Linked DNA regions of Homo sapiens: region 1 is linked to region 2. Evidence: fine-mapped expression QTL. A gene starts in region 2. The other region holds a variant in brackets. All regions are shown on one strand. Distances are between the middles of the regions.

Region 1 (12,285 bases), 36 kb after region 2:
AGGATGGTCTCGATCTCCTGACCTTGTGATCCGCCCGCCTCGGCCTCCCAAAGTGCTGGGATTACAGGCGTGAGCCACTGCGCCCAGCCAGCTACATCTCTTTATGTGACCTTGGGCAAGATCTTTAATATCCCTGGACCTTTTTTCATGATAGGTTAAGTAATGGGGCCGGAGTAGGTGTCCATTATAGATCCTTTCAGTTCTTAGATTCTATGATATGATATTTTAAGAACCTACTCTTTGGGGTGATAGGAACAATCCTTTATAAGTGAAGATGATCCTACTCATCTATGCTAATAGAAGTACCTGGCTGGGGTTAAGCACAAATTTAGATTCTAGTGTGATTTAGCTTAGAGTGCTAAAAATTGTTGCCCTTCTTTTCACCCACATATTTTAAGCTTGGCATGCCCTCCCTACATCTGGATTTTTACATATTTCGTGAATTTTCTTCACCTTATATTCCTTGCTTTGTATATCTCCTTCACTAAGAGTTTCAAATTTGCTTCTGTAAGCTATTTTGCAACTGTACACTAATCTCTCCTATCTTAGAACTTAGTGCCTCTGTTATTTTTATATTCGGGGTCTTGAGGAACCATGTGAAACTCGAACACTGGAATTAGAGCACAATTACCCTGTGAAGTTGAATCTTGTGTACAGCCAACATTTCTTAAATCCCTTCTTGATTTTATACATTTTGCTGAATTACATTTTAGGTAAGTTTGGCCGCACTATTTAAATGTCTTTGTCTTTGATATAAGAGGCAGTAAGGAATTGTGAATATAGCAACATTATCCTTGAATGAATTTCACAGTATTTCATTTTATCCTTCTAAGTAGAATAAAAGTAATAGTCTTAAAGAAAAGACAGGAAAAATGTTAACTTTGGTTTTTTTTTTTTTTTTTTCTGAGATGGAGTCTTGCTCTGTCCCCCAGGCTGGAGTGCAGTGGCACGATGTCGGCTCACTGCAACCTCCACCTCCCAGGTTCAAGCGATTCTCCTGCCTCAGCCTCCCACGTAGCTGGGATTACAGGCGCCCGCCATCATGCCCGATAATTTTTGTATTTTTAGTAGAGACAGGGTTTCACCTTGTTGGCCATGCTGGTCTCAAACTCCTGACCCCAAGTGAGCCACCTGTTTCAGCCTCCCAAAGTGCTGGGATTACAGGCATGAGCCACCGTACCTGGCCAAGGTATAGAAAGCCTTTTAGTCAAATCATTCTTTGGTTTGGTGAGAGATATAAAGGTATACATACTGTCATTAGTGTACTGCCTAAAAATAATATTGATTCTTTTCCTCTCCAGAGGCTGGAAGTCATCCACAACAAACACAAAAATTGGAAGAAATTAAAGAGAATGCACAGGACACCATGAGACAGATTAATAAAAAGGGTTTTTGGAGCTATGGTGAGAACAAACCTGGTTTTACTGCAGTGTTGATTCACTTTCAGAAATCCTCAGTGAAAATGCCTAGAAAACTAGCAGATTTAAACAGTTTTAACATTGTGTTTATATATACTTATTTAATGATTGGTAGTGAGACATAGTAAAATAGTACACTAGAGTTTTAGGGATTTTTCCCTTACGGGTGCTGGCTGATATTTTGCTGTGCTTAACAAAATGGAATTTCTCACAATAGGAAAGGCTTTTCCTAAACAAGAAACAAAAACTGCCTTTCTAATTAGAGAATATTAATTTTTCAAGTGCACTTTAAAGTTATGACTCCTAAAAAAATGGTCGGCTATAGGTAGTAGGTGCATTGAGAAGATGAAAAAAAATCTTGATCACTCATGTCTAAATTACATCATTAGTTATAATAACAAATACATAGACTCAGCTTTTACCTTTTATTTTTAAAAATTTTTTACCGAGTACTTAACTCTTCCACGTAGCTTTTATCTTTTAACAGATATATCTTCAAATAATTAAATCTGAGAAGAGATTAGAGAAAAGGTACTTCTGGTGGATTGAAAGTTTAAACAATTTATGCAAAAGAAACTTATTGCTCCTAGTAAAACCTGCTGGTATCTCTGCCTCATTTCAGTTTACCACAGGCTTTGTTTCTGGCTCGTGTTCTCTGTAATTTTCTATTCCTTTTTCATTCTTTTGACAGGCCCTGTGATTCTTGTCGTCCTGGTTGTGGCTGTTGTGGCAAGTTCTGTGAATAGCTACTATTCCTCTCCAGCCCAGCAAGTGCCCAAAAATCCAGCTTTGGAGGCCTTTTTGGCCCAGTTTAGCCAATTGGAAGATAAATTTCCAGGCCAGAGTTCCTTCCTGTGGCAGAGAGGACGGAAGTTTCTCCAGAAGCACCTCAATGCTTCCAACCCCACTGAGCCAGCCACCATCATATTTACAGCAGCTCGGGAGGGAAGAGAGACCCTGAAGTGCCTGAGCCACCATGTTGCAGATGCCTACACCTCTTCCCAGAAAGTCTCTCCCATTCAGATTGATGGGGCTGGAAGGACCTGGCAGGACAGTGACACGGTCAAGCTGTTGGTTGACCTGGAGCTGAGCTATGGGTTTGAGAATGGCCAGAAGGCTGCTGTGGTACACCACTTCGAATCCTTCCCTGCCGGCTCCACTTTGATCTTCTATAAGTATTGTGATCATGAGAATGCTGCCTTTAAAGATGTGGCCCTGGTCCTGACTGTTCTGCTAGAGGAGGAAACATTAGAAGCAAGTGTAGGCCCAAGGGAAACGGAAGAAAAAGTGAGAGACTTACTCTGGGCCAAGTTTACCAACTCTGACACTCCCACCTCCTTCAACCACATGGACTCAGACAAATTGAGTGGGCTGTGGAGCCGAATTTCACACCTGGTACTGCCAGTCCAGCCAGTGAGTAGCATAGAAGAACAGGGGTGCCTTTTCTAAAGCTAAGCACAGAGTTGGTTACAGAAGGTATATGTTTATGAAAAAGTTTGTTTAAAGACCTTCCATTTATATGGAAGGAGGTTGATAAAATAGCTTGAGGAAATAGCCTGAAAAACAAAGATGAGCTTATTTTAGAAACAAGTTTTTATTTTTTATTCCTTGTAAAATCTTTCTAATCTAAGCCTTGACAAAGCTAAAAATTAACCTGACTTTTTTTCTTTGGACCAAATCAGGTTTGAAATATCGATGATATATATGAGAATTTTTTTTAAATTCTAAAATATAGCAACATTGCACAGGAAGATACTCTTACTTCTTAGAGTAACTACAGAGTGATTTTTTTTTTTTCTTGAGTGAGACTCTGAAGAACCTTTTCGATAATGTTTGGACTTGGACTAAAGCAATTAGAATTATGAAGCAATGATAACCTTTAGAAAATTTTTCTATCACATGTTGAATATTTTCAAACCTTACTTTAATAATCTAAAGTTACGGGATTATATCTTATATTAATTTTGCAGTTTTGAGTAGTATGATAAAAGAAATAAGAATTCAAACCATTAAGTACCTACCTAAATACTACATGTAAGGCACTGTGCTTTTATTTCATTCAGCTGAGGTATAAGCAGCTGTACTCAAATGTTCTTAAAAATGAGAACCAGTGGGGAAATTGTTTATAATCATTGGAAATGAAGAAATTCCAATTGGCTATATCTTTACTTCAGCTTTTCTTGAACAATTTACAGCATTGATTTTCAAACTGTGTCTACTGGCACCCTTCCCCTTTGTATCAGAGCAGTTCTGCTTTTAACTGTTTTATATGTTGGGGTTCTCTATGAGATTTCATTGGAACAAAGAGTTTCACTGATATTCGAGTTTGAAAACCATTGATTAAGTGAAAAAACATCTTAGAAGATAGGAAATATGTTTAAAAAATGAATGTATTAAATCTTATGAGTAGGAAGATGAAATACAGGTTTATTGTATAGATACATTATTTATGAAGGATAAAGATCTATACATGAACAGCAGAATGTATAAGCTAGCATTTACTAGCATGTCTCTGATGCTTTTGTTCATTTCTGTTAATCGTCATTTCTGTCCCCTCTGCATGGAATTTTATACTTGTCTAGGGTAAGAGTTTGTAGACTCTTTCAGCAGAACAGATTTTAATAACCAATTTATTTGTTTTATTTTAAAAATTTATTTTTGAATAACCAATTTAATAGTAAATTTTATATGAACATTTGGCATAACTTTACCAGTTTATTTCTATGCAGTGATGGAACATTATGTAATGCAGCTCATTTCTTGACCAACTAGTTATAGAAGTACCATTAGGTTAAAAATTAGAGAAATCTAAGAGATGTTATACTTAGTGAGAGGAAGCAGAAATGGTGGGTAGATTCTCAGAGGTTTTGATGTTCAGTACTGACGGACCATGTTCTGTGATTGTAAGAAAGATTGAAAACAGTTTGTATGGAGATAGAGTTGATTAGCATTTGAGCTCTGAAAGCAGAACTCTAGTAAAATGATCTCGACCTAACAAAGGGTCTGTTCCATTATATAGACTATTACCATAATCCTGGATTATTTCAACTGGGTTTTGGCCTCTCCATTATATGAGATCATATGTATATAGCTAAGAAGTCTGATTAAAGTATGGAAAGATTTTAGGAAACACTAAGAAGATACAGGGATCTTTACTGATACCTAAAAAGATTACAATTGAGTAATTGCTCAATTGAGTGTAGGGGCATACCTGAAGGAAGAATTTGCATTTGGGACTTCGAAGGAAGCTTCCAAGAGATTTGGGAAGAGACCTGAACAAAAAGTTAAAGCATGGTGAATGTGATATCACTGTCAATCCAGTATAAAAGCAGAGGAAGTTGAAGGAAAATCTGTATCCCATATGCACATTTTTTCTGTCTTTTTAGATCTTAGATGCTAGCGTTACATCCACAAAACCAGTGTTGCCTTGTATAACTATTATATTGGCCTGCTGACCTGTGCTACCTCAGATCTGTCAAGGAACCAGTATGTCGCATATTCTTGTTTCTTCATTCAGTTGAATATGGTTTTTCATCATTTCTCTTCAAAATAATTTAGAAAAATAAATTTCTAAAGTCATAATTTTTAATTTAGCCTTTTTAAAAACATTTTCCCTTCCATGTATAGTGCAATCAATTGAGGGTGTTGTCAGTTTTCTGTCTGCTATTTCAAAAGTCTTTTTTTTTTTTTTTTTTTTTTGAGATGGAGTCTCACTCTGACTCCCAGGCTGCAGTGCTGTGGCTTGATCATAGCTCACTGTAGCTTTAAACTCCTGGGCTCAAGCAATCCTCCCACCTTAGCCTCCTGAGTAGCCGGGACTACAAGTGCAGACTACCACACCACTCTACCACACTATTTTGTATAGAGACAGGGTCTTACTGTGTTGCCTAGGCTGGTCTTGAACTCCTGGCCTCAAGTGATCCTCCCACCTCAGCGTCCCAAAGTGTTTGGATTACAGATGTGACCCAATGCACCCAACCAAACTTCTTTTTTTTTTTTTTTTTTTTTTGAGAGAAGGTCTTGCTCTGTCACCCAGGCTGGAATGCAGTGCAGTGGCACAATCTCATCTCACTGTAACCTACACCTCCTGGGTTCAAGTGATTCTTGTGCCTCAGCCTCCCAAGTAGCTGGGATTACAGGCATGCACCACAATGCCCAGCTAATTATTGTATTTTTAATAGAGACGAGGTTTTGCTATGTTGTCCAGGTTGGTCTCGAACTCCT[G/A]GCCTCAATTGATCCGCCTGCCTTGGTCTTTCAAAGTGCTAGGATTATAGGCACGAGCCACTGCACCTGGCCTCAAAAATCATTTTTAAAAGAAGCAGTATATTAGCTCTGGGTCTTCTCATGACTAAAATGACTATTTTTAAACATAAGACCATATTTTATAAATGTACAGATAATTCAAATCTATTATCTAATGTATTAGGTTAATTTCTATTTGTTCTATACTTTTTTTTTTTTTTTTTTTTTTGAGATGGAGTCTTGCTCTGTTGCCCAGGCTGGAGTGCAGTGGTGCAATCTTGGCTCACTGCAAGCTCCGCCTCCTGGGTTCATGCCATTCTCCTGCCTCGGCCTTCCAAGTAGCTGGGACTACAGGTGCCCGCCCCGACACCTGGCTAATTTTTAAAAAAATATTTTTAGTAGAGACAGGGTTTCACCGTGTTAGCCAGGATGGTCTCGATCTCCTGACCTCGTGATCCGCCCGCTTTGGCCTCCCAAAGTGCTGGGATTACAGGCGTGAGCCACCGCACCCGGCCTATTGACATTTTTTAAGGTTTCAGATTTTCTTTTGTGTGTCTAGTAATTCGTCTTTTATTGTCAAAGATAATTTGCTTATTTGACTTAGAAAAATGATTTGTGGGCATACAATATTGTATGTGGTACCTAAACGTTGCCATTTAGTTACTCTTACAGAACAACTTTCATTACACTGTATATTAATATAAATTACTTCTTGAGTAATCCCAGAATTGTAGAACCAATTGGTAGAATCAGAAACTGTCTTTGGACTTGAGGTTTTTCTTCCCTTAGGGTAAATTTTAGGTTTTCTGGTTAGTTTCCAGGAGTTGGCGGACAAGTTCATATCACTAAAGGTGTTCATATCACTAAAATAGTAATGCTAATTTGTTTCATATTTCTATTTTAAAAAGCAATCAATAAAGACATTTCAATACATTTCATTTGGAAGCCCCCAAGTGTATGGTGGTTAATAAGGCTCAGCATGCTGGTAACCCACCATTCTCTTAGCTAGTGACTCCACTAAATAGTGCTAGCCGCTGAGATGGTTTTGACCCTTTAACAGCCTTTTTTTTTTTTTGAGACAGAGTTTCACTCTTGTTATCCAGGCTGGGGTGCAATGGTGCGATATCTCGGCTCACTGCAACCACTGCCTCCCAGGTTCAAGCGATTCTCCTGCCTCAGCCTGCCAAGTAGCTGGATTACAGGCACGTGCCATCACGCCCAGCTAATTTTTGTATTTTTGGTAGAGACGGGGTTTCCCCACGTTGACCAGGCTGGTCTCGAACTCCTCACCTCAAGTGATCCACCCGCCTCGGCCTCCCAAAGTGCTGGGATTACAGGCGTGAGCCACCGCGACTGGCCTACACAGCTTTTAATTGCTTGATTTATACTTTATTAAAGAGAGGAAGCACAATGAGCAGTGATACTAAAATATAACTAATATGGCATGTGAAAGTGATCATTATTCAGATGATCTTCACCAACACTGCATTTGCATATATCTGACCAAACTTTATGCGACATAGGCAGGTCTCTGGCACTTCAAAAATGAATGTTAAATAGAAAATAATAAATAATAGCTGATTAGGGTAATCATTTATTTAATCAGAATAAAGATTATATCCATAAAATTTACTTGCAGAGAAGTACTTTCTTTTTGTTTTAAAGACAGGGTCTCACTCTGTCACCCAAGCTATGGTGCAGTGGCACAATCACAGCTCACTGCAGCCTGGACCTCCTGGCCTCAAGGGGATGATCCTCCTACTTCAGGAATTATGCCACCATGCCCGGCTAGTTGAGAAGTACTTTCAAATAGCAACATGAAGCCTTTCCTTTACCATTTGAAAATAAAACATAGTTGTAAACATAAACCAGTATGTCTTTGTAAAGCCAATAATATATCATTTTATAGGAGCATTGTCTTCTTGTGTTTTTCAAGTTGACTATGTAGTTCAATGTCAGTCTCCATTTTAATATCTTGTTTGTTTATCAGCCTGAGCATATTTCATTTTAAAATGTATTTGTTGAGAAGTCATGGTGGTTTTTTGTTTTTCACAAGTCAAGTAGCTTGAACACTATCACTTGTCCAATGGGAAAGTTGATGCTTATCTTTATGGCAAATGCTTGGTTGAATAATATATTTGCAAAGATGTTAATTCTACAGAGAGCTAAATAAAGTTAAGATACCTGTAAAACAGTTTCTCCAGATGACTTTAAAATAAGCCTTATTTTTGTAAATTTATGTTAAATTTTAGGTGTTAAGTTGTGAAATACCTAATGATGTGGGCCTAAATTTGCCTCATTCAGACTGAGACAGGGCTGTTAAAATTCATTTCTAGCTAATAAACTGTGCTATAACTTCTTTATTATTATTATTATTATTATTATTATAGTTTAAGTTCTGGGATACATGTGGAGAACATGCAGGTTTGTTAACATAGGTATACACGTGCCATGGTGGTTTGCTGCACCCATCAACCCGTCATCTACATTAGGTATTTCTCCTAATGCTATCCCTCCCCCAGCCCCCCACCCCCTGACAGGCCCCAGTGTGTGATGTTCCCTGCCCTGTGTCCAAGTGTTTTCTTTGTTCAATTCCCACCTATGAGTGAGAACATGCGATGTTTGGTAAACTGTGCTATAACTTCTGTATCTCTATAGGCCAATCCAAATGGCCTGAGAACATAATCAGTATCCCCTAATCTGCAAAAAGGTAAATACCTTAGTCTTCAGTACCTTTCCTTCCAGTATTATCTGCATTATCTGTGCCCGCTTGCTGTGATGTCTTGAAAAGCCCATAAATTGGTTCTTATTTTGGCAAATGGTCTCCTGCTTTTCCTCACTGAGGCTTATAAACTAAATTTGCCTTTGGCTAAGCGCAGTTACATGAACCAAAAAGAACATTTTAGACTTGGGAAGCAACAGGCTGAGTCACATTGTATGGGGCAGAGTTGGCCAAGCCCCCGGCAGTCACAGCCCTACTCTCTGTGTTCCTTCTAGGCCTGAGGACGCATCAACACAAAGCTCCAGGCAGTTGCTCCTGGTTCATCAGAGAGCACAGGAAATTTAAATCTATTTGCCTTTCCTGTCATAAAAGAAACAGCACACTGACTTTCAAACTCAATTGCATTTTGCTTATTTGTGCTTAACAAAAAATATGTGTGCTTTGCCAATACTAACGTCCCACTTCTCTGCACTCCCTTTCTGTATAACAGGGATTGCTTTTGTATTTGTTTCTTATAGATGCTGATGATGTGCCTTATTCAGATTAGTTGGCCATTACCAGAATAAAGAATAAATCTGAATTTTTTTCAGCGGACTGATTCTTGATTAAATTTCCCAAAATAGCAGGTTTATAGAAATGGGCATGTGGTGATTAATGGTGGGAAAGGAAACTGCCCTCATATGGCAGTAAGCTGAGGAGCTAGAGAATCCTGTGAGGGTTGTCAGGTGGCATTTTGTGGCCATCAGTGAAATGGTATAGGGCAGACCCTGCCTAGAATCTGTTGCAGCTCTTGGGTAGCATTCTTCGAGTGCTATTCCTACTTAACGAAGCTTTCCTGAGTATGGGAGAAACATTGGGGTTGTAAGTAGATCCCTGGGAATTGCTGCTATCCCAGGGTGTGCTGTTGTGAGTGTGTGTGTGTGTGTTTTGAGACAAAGTCTTGCTCTGTTGCCCAGGCTGGAGTGCAGTGGTGCAATCTCCCCTCGCTGCAACCTCCGCCTCCCAGGCTCAAGCAATTCTCCTGTCTCAGCCTCCCAAGTAGCTGGGACTATAGGCACAGGCCACAGTGCTGGGCTAAATTTTTCTATTTTTAGTAGAGAAAGGGTTTCATCATGTTGTCCAGGCTGGTCTCAAACCCCTGAGCTCAGGTGATCTGCCTGCCTCGGCCTCCCAAAGTGCTGGGATTACAGGCGTGAACCACCACACCCAGCCTGTGAATGTGGTTTTTTTTTTTTTTTTTTCGAGACGGAGTCTTGCTCTGTCGCCCAGGCTGGAGTGCAGTGGCGCGATCTCGGCTCACTGCAACCTCCACCTCCCGGGTTCATGCCATTCTCCTGCCTCAGCCTCCCGAGCAGCTGGGACTACAGGTGCCCGCCACCACGCCCAGCTAATTTTTTTGTATTTTTAGTAGAGACGGGGTTTCACCGTATTAGCCAGGATGGTCTCGATTTCCTGACCTTGTGATCCACCCACCTCGGCCTCCCAAAGTGCTGGGATTACAGGCGTGAGCCACCGCGCCCGGCCGAATGTGTTTTTTAAGTGTGGATATCCCTTACCTTATGTGTTGGGAGTGGGGGAGGTGGGGGTGTGTTCAGAATTTCTGCCTTAAGATGTTGCCAAACCAGAATTACAGAGCAGAAGCACCTGAATACCCATCTCAGCCCCTCACCCACCTTCTCCCAGCTTCCTGCTCGGCCCACCCCCATCCATACCCAACTAAAACCAAAGGTCTTATTAACACATTTTATAGAAACATTTTCTAACAAATCTGAATTGAATTTTGAAAATCTGAAAGACTTGTTTTTGCAGTTTAGAAAAATAGGAACTTTGGGAGTTACCATATCTTAACATATGAGCTTTCACTGAAAAGAGCTAAAGTCAAGCGATAAGATGAGCCTGAAGGCAAAGAACACAGAATTTCCTAATACTCATTCCACAAACGTCAACAGTAGATTAGCAGCAACGAGATTTTCTTAATGCATAAACTCACCACTAGAGGATATTACATACTAGTGTTCTACCGTACACTAGAACAGGCCTCAATACTGATTAATAAGGGAGTGAGTGGCTATGAATTATTTAGTTGCTGTAGGAATTGTCATTTTAAACAGGATACAATAAAAATGATTTTAAGTCTGAAGTTGCAATTCGAGTCATAGAATGTTTGGTGCAGAAGCAGCTCCATCAAGCTAAACAGAAAAGATCTTAGCTATTGGTCCAAGGTATTATCTACTTTAAGAAAAGGAAATGAGTAGGCAGATCGTATTATGTATATGTTTAGGGCACTCATTACTGTGGAATCTGCCCACATGACTTTAGGGCTCACAGAAGGCCCCCATACACACACTAAAAATGAGACACTAGCCAGGCGTGGTGGCTCACGCCAGTAATCCCAGCACTTTGGGAGGCTGAGGTTTGTGGATCCTTTGAGCCCAGGAGTTTGACACCAGCCTGGCCAGCATGGTAAATCCCTGTCTCTAAAACAAATGCAAAAATTCGCTGAATGTGGTGGCACATGCCTGTAAGTCCCAGCTACTCAGAAGGCTGAGGTGGGAGGATCACCTGACCCTGGGGAGGTGGAGGCTGCAGTGAGCCATGATTGCACCACTGCACTCCAGCCTGGGTGACCGAGTGAGACCCTGTCTTAAAAAAAAGGCCAGGCGCAGTGGCTCATGCCTGTAATCCCAGCACTTTGGGAGGCTGATGTGGGCTGAGCATGAGGTCAGGAGTTCAAGACCAGCCTGGCCAACATGGTGAAACCCCTGCCTCTACTGAAAATACAAAAAGCCAGCCGTGGTGGTGGGTGCCTGTAATCCCAGCTACTCTGGAGGCTGAGGCAGGAGAATTGCTTCAACCCAGGAGATGGAGGTTGCAGTGAGCCGAGATGGCGCCACTGAACCCCAGCCTGGGCAACAAAGCAAGACTCCGTCTCAGGAAAAAAAAAAAGACACTTTGTCTTTTTGACCTATATCTGACACTTTCTAGGATCACTAATTCTTAAGTATACAAATCAATGTTTAAGATAAACCATTAATTCAGTAACATCTTTTATTATCATACTGAGAGGTGACAGCGTGCTGGCAGCCCTCGCAGCCCTCGCTCGCTCTCGGCGCCTCGTCTGCCTGGGCTCCCACTTTGGTGGCACTTGAGGAGCCCTTCAGCCCACCACTGCACTGTGGGAGCCCCTTTCTGGGCTGGCGGAGGCCAGAGCTGGCTCCCTCAGCTTGCAGGGAGGTGTGGAGGGAGAGGCGCGAGCGGGAACTGGGGCTGTGCGCGACAGTTGCTGGCCAGCTGGAGTTCCGGGTGGGCGTGGGCTTGGCGGGCCCCGCACTCGGAGCAGCCGGGCGGCCCTGCCGGCCCCAGGCAATGAGGGGCTTAGCACCCGGGCCAGCGGCTGCGGACGGTGTACTGGGTCCCCCAGCAGTGCCGGCCCACTGGCGCTGCACTCGATTTCTTGCCAGGCCTTAGCTCCCTCCCCGTGGGGCAGGGCTTGGGACCTTCAGCCTGCCATGCCTGAGCCTCCCCCACTCCGTGGGCTCCTGTGCTGCCTGAGCCTCCCCCACTCCGTGGGCTCCTGTGCTGCCTGAGCCTCCCCAACGAGTGCTGCCCTCTGCTCCACGGCGCCCAGTCCCATCAACCACGCAAGGGCTGAGGAGTGCGGGCGCACGGCGTGGGACTGGCAGGCGGCTCCACCTGCGGCCCCGGTGGGGGCTCTACTGGGTGAAGCCAGTTGGGCTCCTGACTCTGGTGGGGGACTTGGAGAACCTTTATGTCAAGCTAGGGGATTGTAAATACACCAATCAGCACTCTGTATCTAGCTCAAGGTTTGTAAACACACCAATCGGCACCCTGTGTCTAGCTCAGGGTTTGTGAATGCACCAATCCACACTCTGTATCTAGCTA
Region 2 (12,285 bases):
GTTGTTTTACAAAAATATATTACTTCAGAAAATCAAAAAGATGGGGTAGAGAGTCACAAATGATGTGGAAGAAAGCAGAAGAGTGAAAAATGTTTAGATCCTTAAAGATTTAATAAAATAGGGGTAAATTCTTTACTTGTTAAAAAAAAGTTAGCCTGTATAACTGCACTAGGCTCTGTGGAACTCAATACAATGTAACATATTTTTTGCCTACCATGTACAAAGCATTCTTCCAGGTACTGAAAAATACTGAATTAAACCAAGTACTTAAATTACTATCAAATATATTATAGGCTCCTTGTCTGCAAAAACTTTGTAATCTTAAAAGAGATAAAACTAACACATATATGGGCTAAACTGTCTTCAGTTGCTACACCCAAAAATAACTGACATAACTTTAACATAAAGTTTCCAAAATCAAGTCTTCAAATCTGTCAGTACCTTCACGAGTCAGCAGGTAAACTTGCAGCCTATCACCGTGCTCTAAGCTGAAAACCCACTCCTCCGCCTATCAATAGTCTACCACAAACTATGTCATCCCATTGTGACTCAGGTCCGCTGATTTTTACCTCACAGGTGCCTTACATGGGATTAACATGAAACTTCATCTGTGACTCAGTGTTAGGTCCTAAAATGGGGGGGGCAGGGTGGGAGAGGATAGATTAAGGAAACTGATTCACCTATGACTTACCTAACACTATACACTCACTTTGTCAGCATCCCTTTTGTCCATTTAGACGAAAACTCTAATTAATAGTCTTGTTTTTCAGGTTACTTTGTCAGTCTGATTTGCCAGACTACTTGAGGTTACAGTGACGGCCACCAAAGTGGCAGATTTTTGGCAGGGACCACCACACTGGAGAAACAGCAATCAGCTCAAGTTATCAAACACTGGGGAACATCAGTTCAGGAAAAATGAGTTACCCCATTTCGGTGAAAGTATTGGGTGAGGTCTCAAATCAATTCACTAAACTCAGCAATCCCTCGAAATGCCCACTCACAAAATTTCTCCTTCCTCTCTGCCCACCTGGGTGAGGAGGGAAAAAGACTGAAAGGTTAGATCCTCAGCTGGGGACTCTGGCCCGCGAGCGTTAAAGAAGGAAATGGAAGTGGTTTCTGTAGAAACATCCGCAGGGTAGAGGGAACCGAAATGAAACCGACCCTGCAGTAATTCGCTGTCCCCTCGTGAAGGCCTGCAGAAAAAGGCAGCTCTGACTCCCCTAAATTGATGCCCGATGTTGGGCAGAGCGCCCCAGCCCTGCCCGGGTCGCTCCACACGACCATCTTTCCACTCCTCCGGTCGGCGCTTCCTTCCCCGCTGCGGGTCAGGGTGGCCCTTGCACGGCGGCACAAGTCCAGAGGGGGCTGAGGAATACCCTTTAGCCAATCCCAGTACTTAGTACCCAGGCGGGCATGAGCTCCACCGAGGCGCGCGCCCGCCCCCGCGCGTTCCCTGGCTCGCGGCTGGGACTGTTACCTCCGCGGTCCTCACCTTCAGAGGAATGAGAGTCCCGCAGCCCTCTCCTGGTCATAACAGGAGACGGCTGTAGCGGAGGCTGCTCTGAGTGCTGCTGCTGAAGGCGGGTAGTCCTTCGCGTCTTCATTTCCTCGGTTTCCTGGGGTCGCGGCTGCCTCCGCTGCCTAGACCGAAGGTAGTACGCGCTTTCTCTCACTTCCTCTTTCGCAGAATCGGACCGGAACTCTTCTAGCCGGGTTCGTTTTCCCACCGGGGACCTTTCTTTGGCCACCAGGGGCTCGAAGTCGCCGTACACTTCTGGCGGCTCGTCCGAGAACCTCACTTCCCGCCGGCCCTGGCGCGACGGAGGAGTTCTGTACGCAGGCGCATCGCTGCTGCCGCCATTTTGAGGGGCGAGCCGGCCCCTTCCCTCTCGGATGGGGGCCCTGGGGGTGACGTACACACCCCATCCTTCCCGCACCGCCTCTGCCCGCCGCCCGTCGCCCGCCATAGTTGTTGACGTAGCTTTAGTCGATCGCGAAGATGGCTTTATGGACCCTAGGTTCTCCTGCCGGTGGTGGCGATGGCTTCTCGGGGGTGTTGGGCGGTGGCCGCTGTGGTCAGGGAGGCAGTTGCGAGTCGCTGGGGCCGCCGCCTGCGTCGTCGCTGCTGTGTAGCAAACCTGCCTCTGGGCCCATGGTGTGTCTTGAGGGCTGTGAGAGAGGCAGTGCCTGAGCTGGGTCAGCTGCTGTGGATCGCTCCCGCCTCCTGGCTGGAGGCACCAAAGAGGAGGAGAAGGGGGAGGAGGACGTCTCTGCCATCGCCCTTAAGTAAAGGAGGGGTGGGGGCGATAGAAGGATGGCAGGGCAACTTGCCTGTCCTAAGTCTAGCCGCTCGTGGCAAGTGTTGACTGCGTGTAGGAGACTCCCGTCCTATCTCCCAGTACCAAGTCTCGGGGAAAAGGAGTGCGACGAGGGTGGAGAAGACCCAAGTTTCGCTTCTCGGCCCCAGGCTGTTGCGCAGTTTCCCTGGAATCTTTTTGATCGACTGCTACGTTGACCATGTCCTTCCCAGTGTCCTTAGCAGGAGTGATGGCCAGAGAGAGAACTTTTGCACATGCCATGTTTTCGTGGCAAAAATTTTAGTTTCAAGTACCTTATGAGGGCGGTTACCTAGTTTTGAATTTTGTCACTTGTTGAGGGTGTACAAAATCCTATCTAGAGTCATACTCGTTGGATGTATTTTCTTTTCCGAAATGTACCCATAGGACACATAACCTTATTCCTGGTCTTTAATATTTCTCGGTTTTATACCAAGCAGCAGTGTTCGGAAGACCATGTTAGTGCTACATTGTGCACAGTGAGAAATGAACAAGTTTTTTAATTAAAGACAGCACTGTAATTTTAAGTTGTGATCCATTATTTTTACTTTTATTCTGGATGTGACGTGATACTCTACATTTGATTTAGAATGCTTTATGGACTTTATGGAATAAGAAAGCATGGTAAAATCTATTTGTTTCACCTCCTTATACAAATGTTTACAGATGTGGCTAATCTGCAAATACCTAACCAAATTTAGACACATTCAGAGAAGGTCGATTAAGTTCGTGTAAAGTCTGAATAATTATTGAAAGAAAGCTTAAATTGCCTTCAAATATACAACTGCTTGTAGGGCTTTGTATGATTGGAGTGAATAGATTTAAAAAATTGTAATTTGGATACCAGTTACAATGAGCGATTCTGAAAAGTTTGAAGGTGTTTGTTTATTCTTCCAAGTAATCACCTTAAAATGTTTTTGAGCAACTCATTTGTTGCTCAAACTTGGCACAAATTTCAACTACTTAAGTCGTAATGTGTACTATGTTTTTATTTTATTTTTATTTTTATTTTATTTTTTTTGAGACGGAGTCTTGCTCTGTCACCCAGGCTGGAGTCCAGTGGCGCGATCTCGGCTCACTGCAACCTCTGCCTCCCGGATTCACGCCATTCTCCTGCTTCAGCCTCCCCAGCAGCTGGGACTACAGGCGCATGCCGCCACGCCCGGCTAATTTTTTTGTATTTTTAGTAGAGACAGGGTTTCACCGTGTTAGCCAGGATGGTCTCGATCTCCTGACCTCGTGATCCGCCTCTCGGCCTCCCAAAGTGCTGGGATTACAGGCGTGAGCCACCCTGCCCGACTGTGTACTATGTTTTTACTAATATTGTCCATAAATTTGGCCACAGGCAGGAGGAATTACAGTTTTAGAGTGAGATAAGGTTTGGCCTGTTAGGAGCTTAGTTTACTGTAGCTTTATGTACAATATAGCTTTTAAAAACTGCAGTAACAAAAGAGAGACTTCTTTCTTTCTTTTCTGTCTCTCTTTCTTCTTTCTTCTTGTCTTTTAAGGAAAAATGAAAAGGATACTCTTCCTTGTCAGTCTGGATTAGATGGTATATTTCGGAAATTAGCTAGATTTACTCTTCCAACAAAATGCTCAAAAGTATTGATATGGTAATACGTGGCTTTTATTTATGTTTTAAGCAGGGCTTTCTCTTTAAAGTGGCTATTACATTACTCATTAGTAACACAATAGTATAAGTTCCTTAATAGATTTAATTATTAAATATAAATTTTATAGTAATATATTGAGTTCATATTATGAACATTAAAGTCTCCTTGAAACATTTTACCAAGACAGATGACTATGTAGAAACTGGGATACTAGCTTATAAAACTTGGATACAGGCTTGTAAAACTTAGGTTTGAGGGACAAATTAAAAAAGAGACAAGAGATTCTACATATTGAACAATCAGAGGAGAGGTTCTGCATATTATTGAATAATCAGAATATGCATATTTTGTAATTAAAACTGCTTGTAAAGGCTTAGGAATGGCCTTTCAACTAAATTAATGAGACACTTACTGTAAAATTAGAGGTATGGTAACTTTAATGCTAACACACACACACACACACACACACACACACACATATATATATGCATCGGATTTTCCCTCTCATCTAGGTTGTAAGCATAAGGAAACCTACCTCTACTGTGACTGCCTCCTTCACCTAGAAACCTTACAGATACGAAACTTTCATCACTAGCTCTGAGGCAAAGCTAAACTGTTATGAAACTAGATACTCTGCTGTAGCTATTATCCAGACTATAAGAGTGGCTGAAAAGAGGTGACATTACAGTGACAGTAGAGTCATAGCCAATATTATAAGGGATGCGCTGGGCCACTAAAAAAGGATGCCTCAGCTCTGGATATTAAAGTTACTTTGGGAATTTGAGAAATCTGGAGGAATTCAGTGACCCAAAAAAGAAGACCGGTAAGAAAAGAAATGATTAAAACAAAGAATACACTTAATAATTCATTTACTTATCAAACGTGTGCCAGCAATGAGGAAGACTATCTTTAGGGAATTTGTCATTTATTGGGAACGACAGAAACACGAAAAATTACAATTCAGATTAAATGGCATTAATTCACACACTTAACTATTAGGGCTAGGTCTGGAAATCCTGTGCTCTTGAGACTGGGTTCCTAAATCAGTTATTTTATTTCATTTTTAATTAATTTATTTATTTAGAGACGGAGTCTCGCTCTTTCGCCTAGGCTGGAGTGCAGTGGTGCAATCTCGGCTTACTGCAGCCTCCCCCAACTCCAGGTTCAAGTGATCCTCCTGCCTCAGCCTCCCGAGTAGCTGGGATTACAGGTGCCTGCCACCATGCCCAGCTAATTTTTGTATTTTTAGTAGACATGGATTTTGCCATGTTGGCAAGGCTGGTCTTGAACTCCTGACCTCAGGTGATCCATCCGCCTTGGCCTTCCAAAGTGCTGGGATTACAGGTGTGAGCCACCACGCCTGGCCAAAATAATTATTTTAAATGAAACATTTTAGAACAATAAATTTTTTGTACAGGAACTTTTTGCTTTAGGGTAAGCAGAAGTTCATTTATTTAAAGAGATAAATCTATCCGTTGTGACTTAGTAGTACAAATGAAGTAGGCAAACAATTTTAATAAGGAAAAGATGATTAAAATATTAAACAGGAGGAAGTTAATTAAAGACATAGTAGCTGGCTCCATTTATTCCCCAGTCTTACAAATGATAGAAAAATATTTTAATGACAATACAAATGAAAATTCCTGGAAATGTTATACTGAAATTAATTAAACACAATAAAGTGAATGGAATATAGTATTCTTTTTGTTGAATTAGGACTTGCAGTTAATTATTAAACACCATCCAAGAGTGTTACCAAATCCTGTCACTTCTGCCAAGAGAGGGTGATTGAGAAGTGAAGGCACCAAAAATCACATTAAATGAGGAATTATTAATTCAATAAATACTTGAGCTACTGTGTAGTAGGCAGTCCCTGTTCTCTGTGCTGGGGATACAGCAGTGAACAAAATAGACTAAAAGACAAAAAATGTTTCCTGCCTTCTTGGAGATTATATTCTATGGGAGGAGTCGGGCAAAAATCAAAATAAGTAAAATAGTGTGTTGGTCAGGACTGTTATGGGAAAAAAAAGAGGAAAGGGGAAGGGAGTTTTACATGAATAGATTTCTTCTTGAAATTTGGTTAGATTTGTCCTGAATTGCTGTAGGTCAAGAACAGGAATTTTAGACTTACTTCATTTTTCCCCCAACAAATTGTATGTTCTTGGGTAAATTGCTCGCCATCTCTTAATTTTCACATTTATAAAATTAGTAGATCAAAACAGCTATTTTTTGTCACTACTGTCATTTAACAGAAATGCTGCATACGTCATCTAATCTACTAATAACAAACTTATGAGGTAAGTAACGTTGTCCCCATTTGACACACGAGCAAACTGAGGTTTAGATTAGGCAACTCATTGGATTACATGCTCCTCTTAATGGCACAGAGGGTGTGTTCCAGGACATGGTGCTTGCCATTATCATTTGGTACTGCTGCTCACTGTGTTGGTCCTATGAGTTTCTTCAGTCTATGAATTTCAGGTCAGGGTGGTCGACGTCTTACAGAGATGCCTGTAATCCTGTCAGCATGAGATTGCATGGGACCTCTGCGGTTTGGTCGCGCATTTACCGCGCCTGTCGCTGGGTCAGACGACCTGGCAGTAGAGGGTGAAGGATGGAGAAGGCAGAAGGCAGGGCACGGAGACTACTAGTCCCAGGATTCCACGGGCGCCTTCCGGCGGAAAGTGTTTGTCATATGGGCGGGGACCCTGGACGACATTCGGGCCGCGGCGGCCGCTGGGTGCAGCCGAGCGGTGTGGAGCGGAGAGAATACTCGAAGGGCTCTCCTGATACTAACAGTTTTACGATTTAAAACTTCGCCAGAATTTGTAAGTAAACAAAATGACTATGCAGCTTTTCCATGTTTTAGTATTGAAACTGATATCTTGAATTTTTGAAAAGGACTTTCAGAAACGGTCCCTCCCCACCCCCACCTTCGTACCGCACAAATGGTATTTTTATTTTTATTGTTTTTGAGACAGGTACTTGCCCTGTCACCGAGGCTAGAGTACAGTGGCGTGATCATAGCTCACCACAGCCTCATACTTCTGGGCTCAAGGGATCCTCCCGCCTCAGCCTCCCAAGTAGCTGGAACTACAGGCCCGCACCACCATGCCCTACTAATTACTTTATTTTTTATTTTTATAGCGACAGGGTCTCACTGTATTGCCCAGGTTGGTCTCGAACTCCTGGCTTCAAGCGATTCTCCCACCTCAGCCTCCCAAAGTGCTGGGATTACAGGCGTGAGCCACCACGCCTGGCCTCACTCAAACAGTAAACGAGGTAGGTTGGGGGTATATTTTTGTTTTGGGATAAAAAGAAACTGAATCTTATAAATATTAAATGGGTTAAGATGTGAGTAAATTTTTGGGTTTAGACTTTAAGGTGAGAAGCCGAATTATTTTAGGGTTCGAAATGTGAGTGGGAAATTTGCCTACTAGTGTAGGCGGCGATTACTCCATTCCCAACATGCCTAGGTTCTCGACATTCATAATCTTAATCCTGAAAAGATAATACTTAAAAAAAAAAAAAATTGGTGCTAAAAAGGGCAAAGTTGAAGTTTTAGTAAGACCTCCTACCATTTTGCTTACATATTATATATGTACCATTCTCCCAATTGTATTTAATACCTGATGAAAAAGTTTGTGCCTTTTCCTTCTTTTAACAAATTTCATAGTACTCTCTACTTTATGAGTAATGCTTAATTATCAGACTTTATACTGTTACACAGATCCAGAAATGAGTTACATAGATTAAACATACTGGCTTTGTTTTACCTGTCTTTAGGTTTTAACACATTTTATTTTGGATCTGTATGAGAGATCCTTTCTTTGTTTTAAGCTGTGGCAGTTATCCATGTTTTTTGAGCTTTTTTTTTTGAGCACAAGATGAGGATATAAAAGGCCAGTGGAAACATTTAATAAAAAAAGGAACTTCATGGTAGAGTAACTACAGATGTTTTTGGAAGACTTTGTGTGGATTAGAATAGTTTGAAAAACTAACATTTGTTATGAAAACTGAGTGCCTGTCTTCAGTAATGTTTATTATGCTGAACGTGCAGTCCACAACTTGATTACCTGTTTTTCTGCTGGTTTGTTACGCAACCTTGCGTGACTCATTTAAGAACTATTTTATCTAGTTTCTTTCCTAATGTAGAGGTAATGCTAGCTTGAGAGCTTCAATAATTTATAAATAAATTAACTTCAGAATGTAGCTAATTATTTGAGGATTATTGGGTGTTTTAATAATGTATTGTATCTTGTATATAACTTATTTTTGCCTAAGAAGTAATTTCTGTATTCCATTCATTTCCATGGAACACAGAAGTCAAAATTCTATTCCAGGAAAGTCCACACTTCTTTGAAGTGCCACTTGAATTTCCTGAAGGAATGTTTGCTTCAAAAAGCCTTGTCTGCTTTATCACTTTGAGGTTGTTCACTAAGTCAACTGTGAAGGCCCATAAACTTGGAGATTCGACAACTTCCAAAAAAATTTAAAGAATGAAGAATTGGCTGTTTTATTTACCATTTAGAATTTTGATTGTGTTAAAATTTCATTAATATTTCTACATCATATGAACTACTGGATTAAACTGTGTCCTACAAGAAGGAATTCATAGGGCGATCATATATTACCATAAATTTTGCACAGAAATCAAGCACTTGGGAATAAGGAAGCGTGTCCCTAACATTGGTAATGAGCATAGACTGGAGTCATAGCTGGGTTTGAATTCCTATTTTGTTACTGTGTGGGCTGTTTTCCTCTTTACTAATATTTAAAGGAGCTGGCACATGATTTTTTTTTTTTTGGTGCCATGGCTCTGGTATGAACTGTGCACATAATTTTGGTAATCGAAATTTCTGGGAAGAAAATTCACCTATAACTCCACTACCTCAACAAATCAAATTGTTTGATTTTTAGAGATTTTCCTTCAGCCCTTGACCATGAGTATCTATCATGTAAATGTAATGACATTTTTGGAAAAAGTCAAATTTTGAAACATTGGTGTCTTCTGGGGTTTTAATTATATAAATGAAGCTGTCTGGTTTTGCCTTTAATAGTTCAAATAATAATTATTTACGGTTTTTGAGGACTTCTTTTGTGCCCCTGTGGTTGCCAGTATTGCACATTATCTCATTTGATCTTCACACTGCCTCTTTCATCTAAGTACTATTATTCCATTTTGTAATTAAGAAAACCAAGGAAAAAATTAGCCAGGGGCTGGGTGCAGTGGCTCACGCCTATAGTCCCAGCACTTTGGGAGGCCAAGGTGGGTGGATCACTTGAGGTCAGGAGTTTGAGACCAACCTGGCCAACATGGTGAAACCCTGTCCCTACTAAAAATACAAAGAAATTAGCTGGGCGTGGTGGCGGGCACCTGTAATCCCAGCTTCTCGGGAGGCTTGAGGCAGGAGAATCATTTGAACCTGGGAGGCGGAGGTTACAGTGAGCTGAGTACGCGCCATTGCACTCCAGCCTGGGCGACAGAGCGAGACTCCATCTCAAAAACAAAACAAAAAACAAAGAAAACCAAGGGCATAGAGAGAGAGAGAGAAACACCAAGTCAGAAGCTGGAGCAGTCATTCAGGTCTAGGCAGTCTGACCTTAGAGGATAGTGCTATATTGGGTTCTATATTTGTAGATTTGCTTTATGGATGTTAGGTCATATTTGTAGATTGGACTTGATCCTGGAGGCTGACTTATAACTTTCTTTGTATAAAAGTAACAGTATTTACAGTTTTTTGTTTGTTTCTTTTTTGAGATAGGATCTCTCTCTCTTATCCAGGCTGGAGTGCAGTGGCACAATCACGGCTCACTGCATCCTTGACCTCCCAGTCTCAAGTGATCCTCCTACCTCAGCCTTCCAAGTAGCTGAGACTACAGGCACACACCACCATACCTGACTAATTTTTGTATTTTTTGTATGAACAAGGTCTCGATATGTTGCCTAGGCTGGTCTCTGAACCGTTGGGCTCAAGCAGTCCTCTCCTGCCTGAACCTCCTAAAAGGCTGGGATTATAGGCATGAGCCACCATACCTGACTACAGTATATTTTGAAGTACTGTATAAAGGTACTTTATAACTATTTTTTCTTTTCTTTTTCTTTTGAGACAAGGACTTGCTGTGTTGCCCAGGCTGGAGTATAGTGGCACTATCATGGCTTACTGCAAACTTGAACTCCTGAGCTCAAGCGATCCTCCCACCTCAGTCTCCCAAATAACTGAGACTGCAGGCACACACTGCCACACCCAGCTACTTTATAGTGAACACCAGAGTCATCTGGCAAATCTGTTAAAACATAAATTCCTGTAGGAGGCTCTCAGAGATTCTGGTCTAGTGGGTCTAGGTTGGGGCCTGAATTTGTACTTTTAGCAAGCTCCCAGGTAATGCTAGTGATTCCCAGCTAGTGAGTTTAATATAGTAAGGAAACAAACACTTGTTGTCCATATTGTTGACTTGATAGTTATACCCCAGTAGCACTGAGCATTCAGATCTTGGTTTTTAAAGGAACTAGGACTTTTTAGAGAAGTGGCTGATTTAGTGCGGGAGCAGAGAAAATACAAGATGAGCCTGAAAAATCTTATGGTGCTTGAAAGTAAGGAAATGCTACAAAAAGTTAGGGACCTTGTCGAAAGGACCCAAGAGCCAACTTGAAGGAGTTCCTGGTATCCAGGTTGGAACAATTTGAGCAATAAAATGAATAATGATAGTATTGGACTTTAACCCATAAAATAAAATGAGTTCATACTGATATTGCTGAGTGAATAAATAAGTAGGGGAGAAGGGACAACTCTAACAGAAGAATTCCATTTAATAAACATAGAAGGAAAGAAGGAAATACAAAACCACCATTAGGGAAACAGTACCATAGTAGTTGTTGCAGACAAAATCCAGTTAGAGGAAAATCAGAATATTTACATAGTCTCAAAGTATCTCTCCCAGGATAATTATTAACTACAAAGAAAAAATAGTAATCCGACAGTGGAGGTACTATGTTAACAAAGTGATCAAGGTTAACATCACCAGTAATGAGACAAGGACATCATGAACCCAAAGAGGCAGTGAGAAGGACACAGCGGCATTTCTGTGACGTTTGTTATTCTTGCCAAAAATGCATAATCTTTTTATCTTTCTAATCATGATAAAATATTGTAAAACTCTAAACTGAGGAACATTCTACAAAATAACTGGCCAGGTCAGGTGCAGAGGCTCATGTCTGTAATCCCAGCATTTTGGGAAGCCAAGGCAAGAGGATCGCTTGAGCCCAGGAGTTCGAGACCAGCCTAGGCAACATAGCAAGACCACGTGTCTATTTTTAAAAACAAAAAACACCGAACCCAAAATAACTGACCAGTATTCTTCAAAAGTGTCAAGGTCACAAAGACAAGAAAGGGTCACAAATGACAGGTAAAGACTGAGGAACTGTCATAGACTAGACACTAAGGAAAAATAACAACTAAAAGAAATCGTGAAATCTGAATATGGCCTCTAGTTAATTGAATTGTGCCAATGTTGATTTCTTGTTTTCGATAACTATGCTTTAATTATGTAAGATGCTAGATGAAGGATATAATGGAACTGTGTGCTATTTTTGCAACTTTTCTGTAAGTCTAAAATTAGTTCAAAATAAAAAGTTTAATAAAAATATGTTGACTTGAAGTAGATACTAAAAGTGATTAGGGAAGTTGAACTAAACCTGGCAGTCAGTTGTGCCACCCACTGTCAGAAATCTTAGCAAACTCTTAGATCCTTCGTGCATAGCTTAATACCTCTACGTGGTCAACCGAAACTAGAGATACAAGTCAAAGGAGTTGGGAGGGAGTATGAAAAAGGGTAAGTAGGAAAGGAAGGCTTTCTGCACTCAGAAAATATCTGTAGAATTTGATCTGCGCCAGGCATTCAATTCCTGTGTAAAAAACAATTCCCTAAGGAAGTAGAGTGCTTTTTGTTCCGAGGCTAGTACTTTTTCAAACTTCTTTCAAAAATCTAGAATAAGTCACCAGTTAGTGAAAATACAGAGAAACGAAAAATTGTGAAAATAATAATGCTGGGATATTATGACAGTGGATATGGTACAGAGGAGTGGGCAAGACTTAGAAATTTAGTTTTAGACAGACAATAAATAGCTAGCACAAGTTATAGAAATACCTAAGCTTGGCACCAGATCTGACTGTTGAAAGTTGTGTATTAGCCTTAAAGGTTTGGCTGCTGGTGTTTTGAAGTGAAATTGTAGACAGAATTTGGACCATGGGCTTTTGGAGCATTAGAGCAACATAGATAGAAATGTACCAGTAGGTTTCCAAACCAGTTGTTCTCCTTTATGGCCATGCCCCTCA

The links. PIP is the estimated chance that this variant, and not a neighbour inherited with it, causes the effect.
Region 1: its variant is fine-mapped to the expression of TOR1AIP2 in lung (TOPMed, PIP above 0.99).

Annotation. Positions count from the first base shown.
Region 1 is chr1:179,836,653-179,848,937 of GRCh38, reverse strand. It overlaps TOR1AIP2 (torsin 1A interacting protein 2), which reads left to right. Exons shown (of 7, transcript NM_001199260.2): 6 at 1,302-1,403; 7 at 2,110-8,962. The coding sequence ends at 2,867. Among named protein-coding and RNA genes, the nearest start is that of LINC02818, 6.2 kb to the right of the region's middle. The variant G/A (reference allele first, on the strand shown) is at 5,643.
Region 2 is chr1:179,872,185-179,884,469 of GRCh38, reverse strand. TOR1AIP2 (torsin 1A interacting protein 2) reads left to right here and starts at 6,667. Exons shown (of 7, transcript NM_001199260.2): 1 at 6,667-6,777; 2 at 7,097-7,231. TOR1AIP1 (torsin 1A interacting protein 1) reads right to left here and starts at 2,185. Exons shown (of 10, transcript NM_015602.4): 1 at 1,493-2,185. The coding sequence starts at 1,967. LOC139427322 reads right to left here and starts at 2,154. Exons shown (of 1, transcript NM_001436163.1): 1 at 2,077-2,154. The coding sequence starts at 2,154. The coding sequence ends at 2,077. RefSeq lists enhancers at 1,479-2,238, 1,743-2,280, 2,259-2,368, 2,281-2,819, 6,333-6,692 and 2 more.